Regions from separate parts of the Homo sapiens genome. Here region 2 is linked to region 1. Evidence: fine-mapped QTL for protein levels in blood plasma. Region 1 holds a variant in brackets. A gene starts in the other region. All regions are shown on their reverse strands.

Region 1 (8,338 bases):
AATGGTCTTTACAATTTGGCATGTTTTTGCAGTGGCTGGTACCGGTTGTTCCTTTCCATGTTTAGTGCTTCCTTCAGGAGATCTTTTACAGCAGGCCTGGTGGTGACAAAATCTCTCAGCATTTGAATCTGTAAAGGATTTTATTTCTCCTTCACTTATGAAGCTTAGTATGGCTGGATATGAAATTCTGGGTTGAAAATTCTTTCCTTTAAGAATGTTGAATATTGGCCCCCACTCTTTTCTGGCTTGTAGAGTTTCTGCCAAGAGATCCGCTGTTAGTCTGACGGGCTTCCCTTTGTGGGTAACCCGACCTTTCTCTCTGGCTGCCCTTAACATTTTTTCCTTCATTTCAACTTTGGTGAATCTGACAATTATGTGTCTTGGAGTTGCTCCTCTCGAGGAGTATCTTTGTGGCGTTCTCTGTATTTCCTGAATTTGAATGTTGGTCTGCCTTGCTAGGTTGGGGAAGTTCTCCTGAATAATATCCTGAAGAGTGTTTCCCAACTTGGTTCCATCCCTGTCACTTTCAGGTACACCAATCAGACATAGATTTGGTCTTTTCACATAGTCCCATATTTCTTGGAGGCTTTTTCATTTCTTTTTACTCTTTTTTCTCTAAACTTCTCTTCTCACTTCATTTCATCCATTTGATCTTCAATTACTGATACCTTTTCTTCCACTTGATTGAATCAGCTACTGAAGCTTGTGCATGCATCACATAGTTCTCGTGCCATGGTTTTCAGCTCCATCGGGTCATTTAAGGTCTTCTCTACACTGTTTATTCTAGTTAGCCATTTTGTCTAATCTTTTTTCAAGGTTTTTAGCTTCTTTGTGATGGGTTCGAACATCCTCCTTTAGCTTGGAGAAGTTTGTTATTACCGATCATCTGAAGCCTTCTTCTCTCAGCTCGTCAAAGTCAAAGTCCAGCTTTGTTCCATTGCTGGCGAGGAGCTGCGTTCCTTTGGAGGAGAAGAGGCGCTCTGATGTTTAGAATTTTCAGCTTTTCTGCTCTGGTTTCTCCCCATCTTTGTGGTTTTATCTACTTTTGGTCTTTGATGATGGTGATGTACAGATGGGTTTTGGTGTGGTTGTCCTTTCTGTTTGTTAGTTTTCCTTCTAACAGTCAGGACCCTCAGCTGAGGTCTGTTGGATTTTGCTTGAGGTCCACTCCAGACCCTGTTTGCCTGGGTATCACCAGCAGGGGCTGCAGAACAGCAAATATTGCAGAACGGCAAATGTTGTTGCCTGATCCTTCCTCTGGAAGCTTCGTCACAGAGGGGCACACGGCCGTATGAGGTGTCAGTTGGCCCCTACTGGGAAGTGCCTCCCAGTTAGGCTACTTGGAGATCAGGGACCCACTTGAGGAGGCAGACTGTCCATTCTTAGATCTCAAACTCCATGCTGGGAGGACTGCTACTCTCTTCAAAGCTGTCAGACAGGGACATTTAAGTCTGCAGAAGTTTCTGCTGCCTTTTGTTCAGCTATCCAGAATGCATTCTTATGTGTGCTTGTGTCCTTTACTGAATTCGAAGGTTCTGGGCAGACCTGAAGGGTTTCCCACATTCTTTACATTCATGGTTTCTCTTGATTGTGTGTCCTACCATGCATTCAAAGGTGTGAGGCAGATCTGAAGGCTTTCCCTCATTGCTTACACTCATAGGGTTTATCTTCAGGGTGAGTCCTACCATGCATTCGAAGGACTGAGGCAGCTCTGAAGGCTTTCCCACATTGCTTGCATTTATAGGGTTTCTCTCCAGTGTGAGTCCTTTCATGGTATCGAAAGGAACTGGAACTACTGAAGGCTTCACCACATTGCTTGCATTCATAGAGTTTCTCTCCAGTGTGAGTTTTTTCATGTCTTTGCAATGATTTGGGACAATAAAAGCCTTTCCCACATAGCTTACATTTATAAGGTCTTTCTCCAGAGTGTATTCTTACGTGTGTTTGTGTCCTTTCATGACTTTGAAGGTTCTTCATAGATCTGAAGGCTTTCCCACATTCCTGACATTCATAGGGCTTCTCTCCAGTGTGAGTCCTACCATGCAATTGAAGGTGTGAGGAAGATCTGAAGGCCTTCCCACATTGCTTACACTCATAGGGTTTCTCTCCAGTGTGAATCCTTTCATGATAACGAAGGGAACTGGAATGAATGAAGGCTTTACCACATTGCTTGCATTTATAGGGTTTCTCTCCACTGTGAGTTTTTTCATGTCTTTGAAATGAATTGGCAGAACAAAAGCCTTTCCCACATATCTTACATTCATAAGGTCTTTCTCCAGAGTGCATTCTTATGTGTGTTTGAAAACTTGTAAGAGAGGATAATGCTTTCCCACACTGCGTACATTCATAGGGTTTTTTCCTAGAGTGGGTCCTTTCATGTATACGAACATACTGGGGACACGTGAATGCTTTTCCACATTCCTTACATTGATAAGCCTTCTCTCCCGTGTGAATCCTTTCATGTCTACGATAGCATCTGGGACTATGAAATGCTTTCCCACATTGCTGACATTCATAAGGCTTTTCTCCAGTGTGAGTTCTTTCGTGTATTCGAAGGGTAGCAGAATAACTAAAGGATTTACCACATTGTTTACATTCATATGGTTTCTCTCCAGTGTGAATTCTTTCATGGATAAGATATAAACTGAGACAATGGAAGGCTTTCCCACAAAATTTACATTTATAAGGTCCATCCCCACTGTGCATTACCACGTGTCTTTGAATGCTTGAATGGGAAATAAAAGTTTTTCCACATTCTTTACAAGCATAGGGTTTCTCTCCAGTGTGATCCCTTTGTGGTGTTCTAAAGGAGGGGTGATATCTGAAGGCTTTTTTAGGTTGTTGACACTTACATGGCTTCGGTCCATATTCCTGATACTCATAGGCCTTGTGTCCAATGTCACCTCTGATGTTCATATTAAAAGATGAGTTACCTAGGCCAACTTCTCCACACACAAAGCTGTCACATGATTTTATTTCAGGAGAAGCTTTCTTCTCCTGGAAGTTCAGCCTGTCATCTGGAACCTGGGTAAAAGTTTCTCCACAATGACTGTCATCTTTAATTTCATTGACTTTCTTTTCTATGAGACTCCTGTCAAAAATGAGAAGCACATTACAAAGGGTTTGTTTATAAGTAATTTTATATTAATCAACAAGTACTGAACTTGCATTTTTAACACTGTCCATCAAAGTGTAGGCTTTCTGCCCTGTCTGAATTGTTTGAAGGTGACTGGACAACCCATTGTACAAGGTGACCCAGCCATAACTATTATTTAAAAAACTGTTTATATGGGGCTTCTTAATACTCTTCCCATGTAAACTATTTTACAAATACTAAATACTCTGTGTCATTTTTCTTTTATTTAGGGGTCTCGTCCTGTTGCCCACACTGGAGTGCAGTGATATCATCATAGCTTACTGCAGCCTTTACTGGCTCAAGTGATCCTCCTGCCTCAGCCTCCTGAGTAGCTGGGACTACAGACCACAATGCCCAGCTAATTTTTTGCTGTTGTTGATATGTGGTCTCGTTATGTTGCCCAGGCTGTTCTTGAACTGCTGGCCTCAAGCTATCCTCCTATCTCCACTTCTCAAAGGATTGGGATTACAGGAGTGAGCCCACAGCCTAGGTCACATTTATATATATGTTTTTTGATCAAATATTCTAAAAATAAATGTATTTGATCCTGGACTTAGTTCTTTTACTTATTTTTAATATATTGTCATATTCTAAGATTGTCTAGAGAGACACTGCTTTGTCTTGTAAGTACAAATTACCTGAAGTTTCTCCTGGGGTTTTGGTACTCATATTCAATGTTCTGGTCTTTCCAACTTTTTCCTAAAATATAGACACAGAAAAATAGTCCTGAGGCAGTATAAAATTGTGAAAAAATTATTAGATTCTATGCCCATGATTTACTGCAGCCATACCTCATTTATTCATCAAAGTATTTCCTGTCTATGTTCTAAATCACTCAACAGCATTGATGAGCTAGAAACACTGGTTCACTAATGGACTGAGGGAAGGAATATGTCATCCTTACCTACAGAGGTCAGGTTCCTGAAAGTTTCCAGCATCACTTCCTTGTAGAGTTTCCTCTGGGAAATATCCAGCAAAGCCCACTCCTCCTGGGTGAAGTTCACAGCAACATCATCAAAGGCCACTGGGTCCTGAAACATCTCACATGTGTAGAGGAGGATGG[G/C]TGAGAGTGACAGCACTGGGGGCCTAGACTCTATTCTCAAGAAGTTCTCAGGATGCCGTGGACTCCAAGGGTCATCAGATCTCTTTCTCCCTGTGTATACTTACTTTCTTCCATAAAGCAATTCTTTTTTTTGAGACAGATTTTCACTCTTATTGCCCAGGCTGGAGTGCAATGGCGTGATCTCGGCTCACTGCCGGGGTTCTACCACTTCTTCTTCCTCAGCCTGAGTAGCTAAGATTACAGGCATGTGCCACCATGCCTGGTTAATGTTGTATTTTTAGTGGAGACGGGGTTTCTCCATGTTGGTCAGGCTGCTGACCTCAGGTGATCCGCCTGCCTCAGCCTCCCAAAGTGCTGGGATTACAGGCGTGAGCCACCAGGCCTGGCCAGCAGTTGTTTTTTTTAAGACAGCGTCTCGTTCTGTTACCCAGGCTGGAGTGTAGTGGCACCATCGTGGCTCACTACAACCTCTTACTCCTGGGTTCATGCAATTCTCATGCCTCAGCCTCCTGAGTAGTTGAGACCACAGGCATGTGCCACCACACCTGGCTAGTTCATAAAGCAATTGTGATGCTAGAACTGAACAAGGGCTAAAGCCACAGCAGGATAGGAAATGTATTTACCGAACCCAGGGAGAAAAGTGAGTTGCCTGGGCTGTCCCTAATGTCTCTTTGGACTGTGGGTCTTTGGACTGTAGCATCTGTCATGACAGAGTCCTATGAATTAATATGCAGAAAAAGTTAACATTAGCAGTCCTGAGGCTGTGTATCCTTGAAAATGCCTGTTCCCAAAGTGTAATCTTTGATGATATTGTCAGAGGAAGCATGTAGGTAGCAAAGAGCAGGAGGGGGAGCCCCTGGGAAATCACACTCCCCCAGGGACCACCCAAATCAGGCATGCTAGATATAAGCAGAGAGGAGGGGAATAACCTAGGTAGAAAGAAACTTCCATTATGATGCCCAGGAATCATTCATTTTGCAGTTATCCTGTCAGAATGTAGCTAGATAGATGCTGACAGGGCAAAGGGGACATTCCTAAAAAATACCTGGCACTGTATGTACTCAAGAGGGCAAACAAGAAACTCTTAAGAGATACCCAGGTGTCATAAGCACAGATTTAACCACTATACCACCTTCCTGAGGTGGCAGTAATGAGCAATGCAGCCACCCACATATCCACTGATGGCTAAATGGAAAAACAAAATGTGGTAAGCATATATATAAAATGGGATATTATTTACTCTTAGAAAATGACATCTTAGCCGGGCATGGTGGCTGACGCCTGTAATCCCAGCACTTTGGAAGACTGAGGCGGGCAGATCACCTGAGGGACAGAGTTTGAGATCAGCCTGACCAGCATGGAGAAATGCCGTCTCTACTAAAAATACAAAATTACCCGGGCATGGCGGCACATGCCTGTAAACCTAGTTACTCAGGAGGCTGAGGCAGGAGAATTGCTTGAACCCGGGAGGCAGGAGGTTGCGGTGAGCCAAGATTGCACCATTGCACTTCAGCCTGGGCAACAAGAGTGAAACTCCGATTCAAAAAAAAAAAAAAAAAAAAGAAAATAACATCTTGGCCTATACTACAACATGCATGAAACCTCAGGATAATTGAAAAAAGCAAAATACAATAGAATTCATCTTAGAGAACTTATGTAGATCTGTCAAACTATCTCAACTGTACATGTAAAATTTCTTAAGCTGATAAGTTTCACATTTTGTTTTAAGATAAGTAATGATAACAAATCATGGTAGCAGCCAGGCATGGTGGCTCATGCCTGTAATCCCAGCACTTTGGGAGGTTAAGGTGGGCGGATCACTTGAGGTCGGCAGTTTGAGACCACTCTGGCCAACATGGTGGAAATCCATCTCTAAAAAAACACAAAAATTAGCCAGGCATGGTGGCACATGCCTATAGTCACAGTTACTTGAAAGGCTGACATGGGAGAATCATTTGAACCTGGGAGGCAGAGGTTGCAGTGAGCCGAGATCACGCCACTGCACTCCAGCCGGGGCAACAGAGTGAGACTCTTAAAACAAACAAAACACCATAAGAATGTCCTAATAGAGGCAGAAAAGGCATCTGACAAGCCTTAACCAATTTATGCCTAGTGTTCCCTTTTTGGAACGCTAAGCATGTGGGAATTGTTTATATCCTACTGCTTAAGGTCATGGCCAAAGTCTGATTTTTCACACGTCGGCAATTCAAAAAAGTGCAACCTCCAGCATAAATAAGTTAATATCTCCTGATGATTAAAAATGCTCAATAAATTAAATATAAAAGAGAAGATTCCATAAGATGACAAGAGAGGCACTAGGAACATAGAAACATCTACTATAAAGACATGTACTAAAAATGCAAACCCAGAGGCCAAGGCAGACAGATCATTTGAGCCCCTCAGTTCAAGACCAGCCTGGGCAACATAAGGAGACCCTGTCTCCATAATAAAGTAAAAAATTAGGCATGGTGGCACAAAACAAATGGTATTGAAACACCTGAATTAGCAAATGCAAAGAAATGAATTAGACACAGAACTGCACCTTTTACAAAACTACTTCCTAATGAATCATTTACTTAAATGGAAAATGCAAAACTCACAATTTCTAGAACGTAACACTGAGAAAACCAAGACGACCTTGGATTTGGCAATAAGGTTTCACACACAACACAAAAAGCATGATCTGTGAATGAGAAAATCGATAAATTGGACTTCATTCAAAACAAAAATGTTTTGGAAAAGACTTTGTTAAAAGAAGAAAAAGAGAGGCAGCAGACAGGGACAAAATATTTGCAAGACACCTATCTGATCAAGGATTTGTACCCAAAAGGTATAAAGAACTCCTAAAATTCTGTAAGAAAAAAACCAACCAATCAAAAAATAAGCAAAAGGCCGGTTACGGTGGCTCATGCCTTAATCCCAGCACTTTGGGAGGCAGAGACGGGTGGATCACCGAAGTCAGGAGTTTGAGACCAGCCTGACTAACATGGTGAAACCCCGTCTCTAGTAAAAATACAAAAATTAGCTGGGCCTGGTGGCGTGAGCCTGTAATCCCAGTTACTCAGGAGGCTGAGGCAGGAGAATCGCTGGAACCCAGGAGACAGAGGTTGCAGTGAGCCGAGATCACGCCACTGCCCTCCAGCCTGGGTGACAGAGCCAGACTCAGTCTCAAAAAAAAAAAAAGCCCAATCTTTCCAAGTATACCTCCCCCTAAAGAATGTAATTATGGCAAACAAACATATGACAGGATGCCCTACATTACATGTTATTAAAGAGCAAATGAAAACAGGCCGGGTGCAGTGGCTCATGCCTGTAATCCAGCCCTTTGGGAAGCTGAGGCGGGTGGATCACCTGAGGTCAAAAGTTTGAGACCAGCCTGGACAACATGGTGAAACCCTGTCTCTACTAATAATACGAACAGCAGCCATGCATGGCGGCGTACACCTGTAATCCCAGTTAATTGGGAGTCTGAGTCAGGAGAATCGCTTAAACCCGGGAGGCAGAGGCTGCAGTGAGCTCAATCACACCATGGTACTCCAGTCTGGGCAACAAGAACGAAACTCCGTCTCCAAAGGGAAAAAAAAAGGAAAACAAAAATAAAGCACCAGCAAATACCTGGTGGAGTAGCTAAAATCCAAAACACTGACACTTCCAAATGCTGGAGACAGTGAACTCTCCTTCACTAGGGATGTGAATGGAAAATTCTACAGCCAATTTGGAAGACAGTCTGTGGAGCTCTGAAGAAAATAAGCATGGTCTTACTGATTCAGTAGTCTCATTCCTACATATTGACTCAAATGAACTGAAAACTGATGTCCACACAAAAGTCCTCCCACAAATGTTTTTAGCAGCCTTACTCATAACTGCCAAAAACTAGAATCAAACAAGGTGAGTCTTTAAAAAAAAAAATAGATAAGTTCTCACACTGTATCTACCAGGCTGTTCTCTAACTTCTGGCCTTAAGCAATCTCACCTCAGTCTCCCGTGTGCTGGGAACTCAGGGATGAGGCATCACACCAGGCTCAAGATGAGTCTTTCAGTAGATGAATAAAGAAACAAACTATGGTAACATCTGTACAATGGAATGTTACTCAGTAATGAAAGAAAATGAGTGGCCGGACATGGTGGCTCACAAGTGG
Region 2 (8,338 bases), not on the chromosome of region 1:
TCTTTTGTAGATATGAAACATTTCATAATAAAACATGAAGGAAGAAATGAATCTAGTCATGATTCACTTGCTCTAATATCATTTTTTGTTTCTCTCCAGTTTGATGTGATGTAGCTCTCTGGATGCAAACCCTCCAGTCGGTTTGGGGAAACACAGTTGCTGTGTGATTTAGCTTTTATCCCCCATCCCAGCCCACAACCATCTCACTGATGAGTCTGTAACATGAAACTAAATCAAAAAGATCCCCAACAGAATTAGAAAAAATATTAAACTCACTGCTTGCTTGTTGATTTAATCAACCTAGCCGGCTGTCATGTGGGATTAGAATAAAATAAACACAAAAATGAAAACACACGATTGCTAACAAAGCAGATTCTTTTTTCAAGGCACACGTAAAGATAATAACTTCAAAGTTGATTATATTAACTTGTCTTCCCATGATAACACGATAAGTTCTTTGCTTGGTTTCCTTCTATTCAACCTTCTCCCGTGACCCTGGTTGGGGAGACCAGGGACCCTGATATGTAGTCCCACAGCACTCAACTCTGGTTCCGCATGGAATTCTACATCTCCTCTTACATCTAGTTACATCTCCTCTTCTAGACTATAAACTCATTGTGGAAAGGCCCCAGGTTTTTTCATGGGTGCCACCATCAGATGGCCCAGTTCAAACAACAGCTCTGTTTCTTACTTCCTGCGTAAGTTTCTTACCCTCTCTGTGCTTTCATCTTGATGTGATGATTAACAAGATGACACATCTAAATTAGTACAGGGCCTGGTAGTATTTATAAGTAAACATTATAATAATTATTATTTGCTATTACTATGTGATGATCAAAGAGAAAACTGAGTTGACAGAGAAGAAAGAAAATAGCTCTTATGATTCTTAATTATTCAAGTTCATGGTCAACGCTCAGGAAATGTTTTAAAACTGAGTCACGGAATCAAGCTCCAGAATATGTGGAATAATGAGAACGTGTGATGCCTTGGAGTGGTGTCACCTCTCTGCTTGCTCATGCCTGAGGTTTGGGACCAGTGGAGCCAACGGGATCTCAGGGGCTTGTGATATTTCCATGGTACCACTCAGTGAGATTAATATATTCTGCACATTTAGCCAGCCTCTTTGGAGTCCTCATTTTGGGATCACAAATTGGCTAGGAAATGATGATGCAGTGGTGGCAGGTCACATCCTCTAGTCCCCCAAAAGCTGTCCTCAGGGTCTGCCCTTCCAAGCTGCAGGTACAATCTAGTCTCTTTAACTGGGTATAGGTGTAATGGCATTCCTTCATGCGGCTAGTTCTCTCTTTTCAAGAGAAATCTAATGATTACTGTTCCAGATATCTAGCAGTTTTCTCTAAAAGTCATGTTTCTCACGATAATTAAAAGTGTAATATGTATTTTAAAATCCCCATGCAACCAGTGTAGAAATCTTACACTTTAAAATCTGGCATTTATTATGTACATGAATTTATAATAAATGCTTAAGCTTTAAGTGACTTGCCTCTTAGATGACAGCAGTGACATAAAACACACACATTCATTTTCATACTGAGAAGATACCTGTTGTGTTAATAAAAATTGTTCTGTTTTGAGGCAAGCATTCCTAAGATCACCGTAGTCTCCATAATATAAACTCATGGGGTCCTATAAAATTGTAAAGATTGTGGTCCAATAGGCTATGGAACGCAGACAATTTATTATAAGATTTGTGGACTCACTAAAATGTTTTAGGCATAAAAATAATTAAAATAAAATTGAAGAGAATTAGAAGAAAATGAAAATAATAATGCTCTTTGGAAGTAAGATGGCTTAAAGAAAATTCAAAGTGACATATCAAACAGACATTTATGGCAATGAACTTTATAAGTAGCTCATTCTAATAATAATATGGAACTATTTAAAACTTTGATTGATGAGTGAAAAAAGGCAAATCAATAGTGGATAACTGGTGAACATTCTTAGGATATAAAAATACAAAAAATGTAATAAATACTATAAAACCTAGTATTGTGTTTAAGATTTAAAGTAATGCCATAAAGTAATTCATATTACAAAGTTATATTTCTTGAGAAATAGCAATTTAAAGATTTCAAAATATAATATTGACCTGTTCAAGTTTGGGCTGTTTCTTATCTCAGTTTTCAAATAAGATGGAAATTTGCCTTTTTACATATAGGCCAGATATTGACTGCGCTTTTACAGGAACTTCTCAGAAACAAAAGACCTCAAAGATATTGATATTTCAGAATGTAATCTGTTATGGTTATGATTATTTTCTCCATTTTTAAAAAATTTGTGATCAGCAATTCTAATGTTGATATAATGTTGCCAGTATTCCAGTTGGGACCAATTCAAAGAATTATAGCAACTCCTCAATTGCTATTTTAAGAACAGACATAATGTAGCCCAATCATCTCACTTTACTGACGTTATCTGAAGTCCAGGGAGAAGTTATGCAAGTTAATCAATATCATCCTTATCTAGATGGGGGAGATATAAGAGCCAGAACCCAGGTCTCCCAAGTGCTGAGAAAAAACCCAAATATTAGTAATTATTAATAGTTTAAGGATTAATAGTTTAAGGACACACATTATTAATAGTTTAAGGATGAAGTTAAATTTCTTAGACCTTTCACAACACACGTTGAGCAGACAGGAAATACCACTAGAAGACTTTATAAAGTATTTCTCAGCAGATCCTTGCTAATTTCGCCAGCCAGCATCATCGTCCTGGCCCATGTGCCACCCATTATTCCAGTGAGGCCAGAGGGAAAATCGCTGCTCTAGGTTTATGAAAAAGGACAAAGTTTTCCTTTCTGAAATTTCTCTCTGGAGACCCAGATTTTAAAATGAATAGTAGCTAGTACCGGCACCTTTGTTTAAACCACGTTATGCCACCAGAAAAAAACATCTGGGGGCATAATAAACTCACGGGCCCTTTTCTTTTGTTACTTTCCTCTAGTACTCCGTCTCGTCAAGGATCACATTAAAAGTTCTTTTGAACCGCTATGCCCTGAGTGTCTAGGAAACACATTTCACGTTCCACAGGGGTATGAACTAAGAAATACCTTAGCAGGAAAGTAAGAGGTACACCGGGCTAGGTCTTTGGTGGAACACCTGCGCAGAGGTTCTTGGAGACATTAGGACACCCTAGTTAGTTTCCTCCATTCTGTAAAAGGCCCTCTGGATATTCATTTCAAGCCAAATTATGAAACTTGTGCCTGGTGTCCAAATCTATCTTTATGGTATTTTAAAATGAAAATGAGAATATTCGGGGGAAAAAGTTATTTTTAAAAAGAGGAAAGAGTTGTCCAAAAGTTTTAGAGGAAGGAAACACTCTAAGATGCATCAGACTGCGAGCCACACTCAAATTCTCACACGGCTGGCATTTAATCCACATCTAATCTTGGCCCCTCAAGAATCCCTCCAGGTTCCGGGAGACTGGGGCTCCCGGACCTGCTGACCTGCTGACCTGCTGACCTGCTGGACGTGCAAGGGTTCATAGCAGTTCCCCGTTTGACCTTGCAGCAATTTCCTGGGCAGGAAATCTGTCAAATCTGTTGCAATAGCTCGGGAAAAAGCAAACCCGAACCCCAAACCCTCACACCCCCACCCTCGCGAGCCGGGTCCAGAGTGGAGATCAGCGGAGGGGACCCTGGGGACCCGCTGCGCTCGAGGGCCACGCCTGGGGGCACGCGTTCACGAGGCCAGATCCTGGAGCTGCCCCCGGCGTCGGACCCGACGGGCTTGACAAACGGGTTCCTGACAGCCCCGAGGGGCCCGTGCTGGCGCTCCCAGGGCTCCCGGGACTGGGAGCGCCACTTACCTCGACTGCTCTGCGGGGCGCTGCGGGGCGCGGGAAGGCGGCGAGACTCCGGCCGGGAAAGCGACGCGCGGTGCAGACTGCCGCACCCGGGCTCCAGGTCGCTGCCCCGGGGAGGAAGTGCTGTCAGCCCTGCCCTTCCCACGCAGCGCGCAGACGTGTGGCGCTATCCGAGCTGCTTTGCTCCGAGGTGCAAGGAAGGCCCCTGGTTAGAGACAGTGGGACAGACAAACATATGCGTAAAGGACTCCGAGTTAGGGGCTGCTTTCTCCAACTCATCGAGTCTGCGCCTGATTTTCTCTCCCCCATCCCACCCCTACTACACAACCACCTTGAAGGGATTTTTATTTTATTTTATTTTATTTTATTTTAATTCTGGGAAACGTTGCGCCTCCCCCTACCTGTGCCGCGCGCGCCCTTCTCTCAGGAGCGTCTCCTGGCGAATGGAACCATTTTGCAGCCTCGACGCAAGAGGGACTAAGGGATTGGGGCCTAGTGATGGTTCCACCAAAGACTGAGAGGCCGCTTTATGTTGCAACGGTCTCCCAAAGTGTTTACTTCAGCACTTTCTGGGCTTCCTCTTTTGGGCCGGTTGTGCAAGGCTTCCCGGCCGCCTGCAGCCCGCCCTCAGGGGACGCGGTGCAGGGCTGGACTGGCAACACGCGCGTCCCGGCCGGAGTTCAGCTGTCTCTCGGGTGGGGGTGGAGGAAGGGCGCGCTGGGCGGAGGCCCTTTCTCAACCATCAGGTTGGTAACCTCACCCTCCTCCCTCCCCACGTTTAACCACGCTCAGTTGGCCGGCCAGGGTGTAGAGGAATAGCACTGTCTTCATTGCTCGTAGAAATCCAAAATGGTCTGAACCCCGTGGAAGAGAATTGAGCAATATCTATTTAACTTATGTATGGATTCGCCTTTTGACCCCGTCATCCCACTTCCAGGAGTGTGTTACGAAGATCTGCTGATGAAAATAAGTAATGCACACGGCAGAGGGCATTCATGGACTCACTATTTGCAACAGCATAGGACTGGCTGGAAATAGCACCTGTCAGTTGGGAGTGGAGTTTCCTGAGAGAAAGTCGCTGGGGAGGTCTGAAAATACAGAAGTTAAAATCAGTTATGATTTGTAAATGCGGTTGAATAACCCTCCCCTTCTCCTCTACAGCTGTGTCTTCAAAGGCTTATATGTCAGGGAAGGTGGTGAAGACATAAAGACAGAAATTAGGTGCATGTGTTAATTAGGCAATTTCAAATAGTTCTGTCATTTATTTAATGAGAAACTATTCGTAAGCACCAACACTTCTAAGAACAATGAAAATAGTTAGAGGAAACAATTTCTGCTCTCATGCATGGTGCATTCTAGTTGGTAGAAAGCAGACAATAAACAAATTAATATTTAACATGTCAAGGAATGTAACTAGTTTTGAAGGAAGTTAAAAGGTGAGGGATAGAGAGTGATGGGCATGGGGATGGGGTTGCTGTATTAATTAGGGTAAATAAACGATAAATAAATAGAAAATATATTTTCTCCTCATGATTTTCTTAATAACAGTTTCTTTTCTCTAGCTTTCTTTATTGTAAAAATACAGTATTTATCTAAATACATATAACATAATATGTGTTAATTGACTGTTTAATATTATCAGTAAGGCTTCTGGTCAACAGTAGGCTATTCGTGGTTAAGTTTTGGGGGAGTCAAAAGACATACATGGATTTTCAATTGTGCAGCAGTTTGGTACTCCTGAAATCTGGCATTGTTCTGTTACAGTAGGTAGCTAGTCAGGCATGAGCAGGGCAGGAGAGGGCTCCTCCCACCCCCTACCAGGAATGTCAGGTGACCATCAGGTGATGATCAAGCAGTTGTTATCAGCCTTACTGATAACATAGTCGATTAACTCATATTATTTTATATATATTAAATACTGTATTTTTATAATAAAGTAAGCCAGAGAAAAGAAACTGTTATTAATAAAATCATAAGGAAGAGAAAATGTATTTTTCATTTATTTATTTATTATTTATTTATCCTAATTTTTTTTAATATAGCACCAGGGAAAGGCAGTCTCCCAATAGACAGAAACACCTGAAACTGGTATTTCTGTCTGATAAGTGACACTTGAGCTAGATCTAAATGGCATGAGAGATTAATCCACACTGGGTTTTTAGATGGGAATATTCCAGGCAAAAGGAACAGCACATTCAAAGACCCTGAGTTAGGAGAGCACTTAAGATATTGGAAAAACACCAAGGAAATTAGTACGGCTGAGCAGAGTGAGATGGGAGGGACAGACATGAGATGGGATCAAAAGGAAATGGTGCCCAGATTGTGTGCTATTTGGGAGCTGTGGAAGAGAATTTGATGTGAGTGAGATGGAAAGCCAGTGGAAGGTTCTGAGCAGAGTTGTAAGTGCTACATAAAATATAAAATCAAACAATGAGAGTGACTTTCTTGGGGCAGGGAAAGTGGTCAAGGATCACCTCTTTACAAAGTAATGAGAAGGGGCAGCCATTCAGAAACTTGGGAAAGGATTCCAAGAGAAGGAAGAACAAGAAGAGGGGCTGAGATAGGAACATAGAAAGTTCAAAAGAAGGCAGGCCAGTGTGCCTGGAATGTTCTGAAAGAGTAGGGCAGCAATAGTGGATGGGGACAGAGAGGTAAGCAGGAACCAGAACAAGCAGGACCTTGTAGCCAGCATTGAGGACTTTAGGTTTTATTCTAATTGCAATGGGGGACTATTGGAATGTATTTAGCAACTGAGTGCATGATTTGACTTAAGCGATAAGCCATCCTGCCAGTTGGTGATTGTTCAGAAAATCAATTGATTGAAGCAAGAGAAGAGAGATTCCTCAGTAGACTATGGTCAGAGTCCAGATGAAAAATGATAGTAGCTTTATTAGTATTCTAACAGTAGATATGGTGAGAAGAGTTTGGAATCAAGATACAGTTTTCAAAATAAAACCAAAGCTTGGCACAGTTGCTCATGCCTGTAATATCAGTGCTTTAGGAGGCCAAGGTGGTAGGATCACTTGAGGCCATGAGTTCAAAACTAGCCTGGACAACATAGCAAGACCCTATCTCTACAAAAATGGGGGAAAAAATTAGCTGGGTATGGTGGCTTATGCCTATGGTTCCAGTTGCTTGGGAGACTGAGGCAGGAGGATTGCTTGAGCCCAGGAGTTCAAATCTGCAGTGAGCTATGATGATGCCACTGTACTCCAGCCTGGGCAACAGAGCAAGACTATTTAAACAAACAAACAAACAACCACCTAGCAAAGTAGAACCAATAGCATTTGCTGATGGGTGGGCTGGGAAATGGGATGGGAGTAAGGGAGTGGCAGAGGGATTAGAAACTGAATGGAAACCAGTATGATTGGAGTTATGGAAGGTCTGGTTAGAGGTAAGGTCAGTAGGGGCAAACCATGTAGGGTCATGTGGACTATGTCAAGAATTATTTTCTCATCCTAAGAGCAATGAGAATATATTAAATAATATTTTAAGCTGGCAAATGATGGGATTTATGCTTTAGGAAAATCACTCTGGCATAATTTGGGGAACGGATCAGATGAAGAAAAGAATAGATGCAGGAAGACTTCTGAGCTAAGTTGGGAAAGAAAATACAATTGGCCTTTGAACTGCCAGCAGCAGAATATATCTGAGACACGGCACCAAAATATGTTAGCTTTGGCAAAACCATATGGGTCTGTAGCGACCTAAATTCTTGCCTCCTCAGAAGAAAGAATTCAACTGAGGGGCATAAGGCAGAAGAAGAGACTAAGGCAAGCTTTAGAGCAGGAGCGAAAGTTTATTAGAAAACTGTAGGGCAGTAACAAAAGAAAGTAAATTATACTTGGAAGAGGGCCAAGCGGGTGACTTGAGAGAAGTGCGCTGTTTGACTTTTGACTTGGGGCTTTACGCATTGACATACTTCGGGGTCTTGTCTTCCTCCTCCTGATTCTTCCCATGGAGTGGGCTGTCCACATGAGCAGTGGCGTGCCAGCACTTGGGAGGTGAGCATGCGCAGTGTGTTTACTGAAGTTGTACGCGTGTTCACTTTAGGCATTCTTCCCTTACCAAATGTCCCTGGAAGGTCATTTGCCAGTTAAACTCCACCATTTTACCTCTTAGTGCACATGCTTGAGCCCACTCGCCCAACTCCTGAGATCTTATCTGGAAGCTGTTGATCACCAGTTTCAGGTGTTTCTATCTATTGGGAGACTGCCTTTCCCTGGTGCTGGCTGTGATCAATTATTATTTTAGAGACACGGTTAACAGTCCCCTGACCACCACCTGATAGTCGCCTGACATTCCTGGTAGGGGGTGAGGGGAGCCCTCTCCTGCCCTGCTCATGCCTGACTAGCTACCTACTGTAACAGAACAATGCCAGGTTTTAGGGGTACCAAAATGCTGCACAGTTGAAAATCCATGTATAACTTTTGACTCCCACAAAACTTGACTACTAATTGTCTACTGTTGCCCAGAAGACTTACTGATAACACAGTCGATTAACACATATTATGTT

Which allele goes with the higher level. Alleles are on the strand shown, and positions count from the first base shown. The strength of an association depends on the size of the effect and on how common the allele is.
With allele C in place of G in region 1, the plasma level of the protein whose gene starts at base 4,338 in region 2 is higher (moderate association).

The links. PIP is the posterior inclusion probability: the model's chance that the variant is causal. The UK Biobank Pharma Proteomics Project read protein levels with antibody pairs (Olink). The fine-mapping took linkage between variants from a reference panel, not from the people measured, so its PIPs are less certain.
Region 2: it holds the start of APBB1IP, and the variant in region 1 is fine-mapped to the plasma level of the APBB1IP protein (UK Biobank, PIP 0.99).

What each region holds. Positions count from the first base shown.
Region 1 is chr19:11,899,402-11,907,739 of GRCh38, reverse strand. It overlaps ZNF69 (zinc finger protein 69), which reads right to left. Exons shown (of 4, transcript NM_001364730.1): 2 at 4,041-4,167; 3 at 3,775-3,835; 4 at 1,044-3,091. The coding sequence ends at 1,642. Among named protein-coding and RNA genes, the nearest start is that of ZNF69, 16 kb to the right of the region's middle. The variant G/C (reference allele first, on the strand shown) is at 4,200.
Region 2 is chr10:26,434,341-26,442,678 of GRCh38, reverse strand. APBB1IP (amyloid beta precursor protein binding family B member 1 interacting protein) reads right to left here and starts at 4,338. Exons shown (of 15, transcript NM_019043.4): 1 at 4,224-4,338; 2 at 3,826-4,027. RefSeq lists enhancers at 4,005-4,084, 4,645-4,774, 4,492-5,021.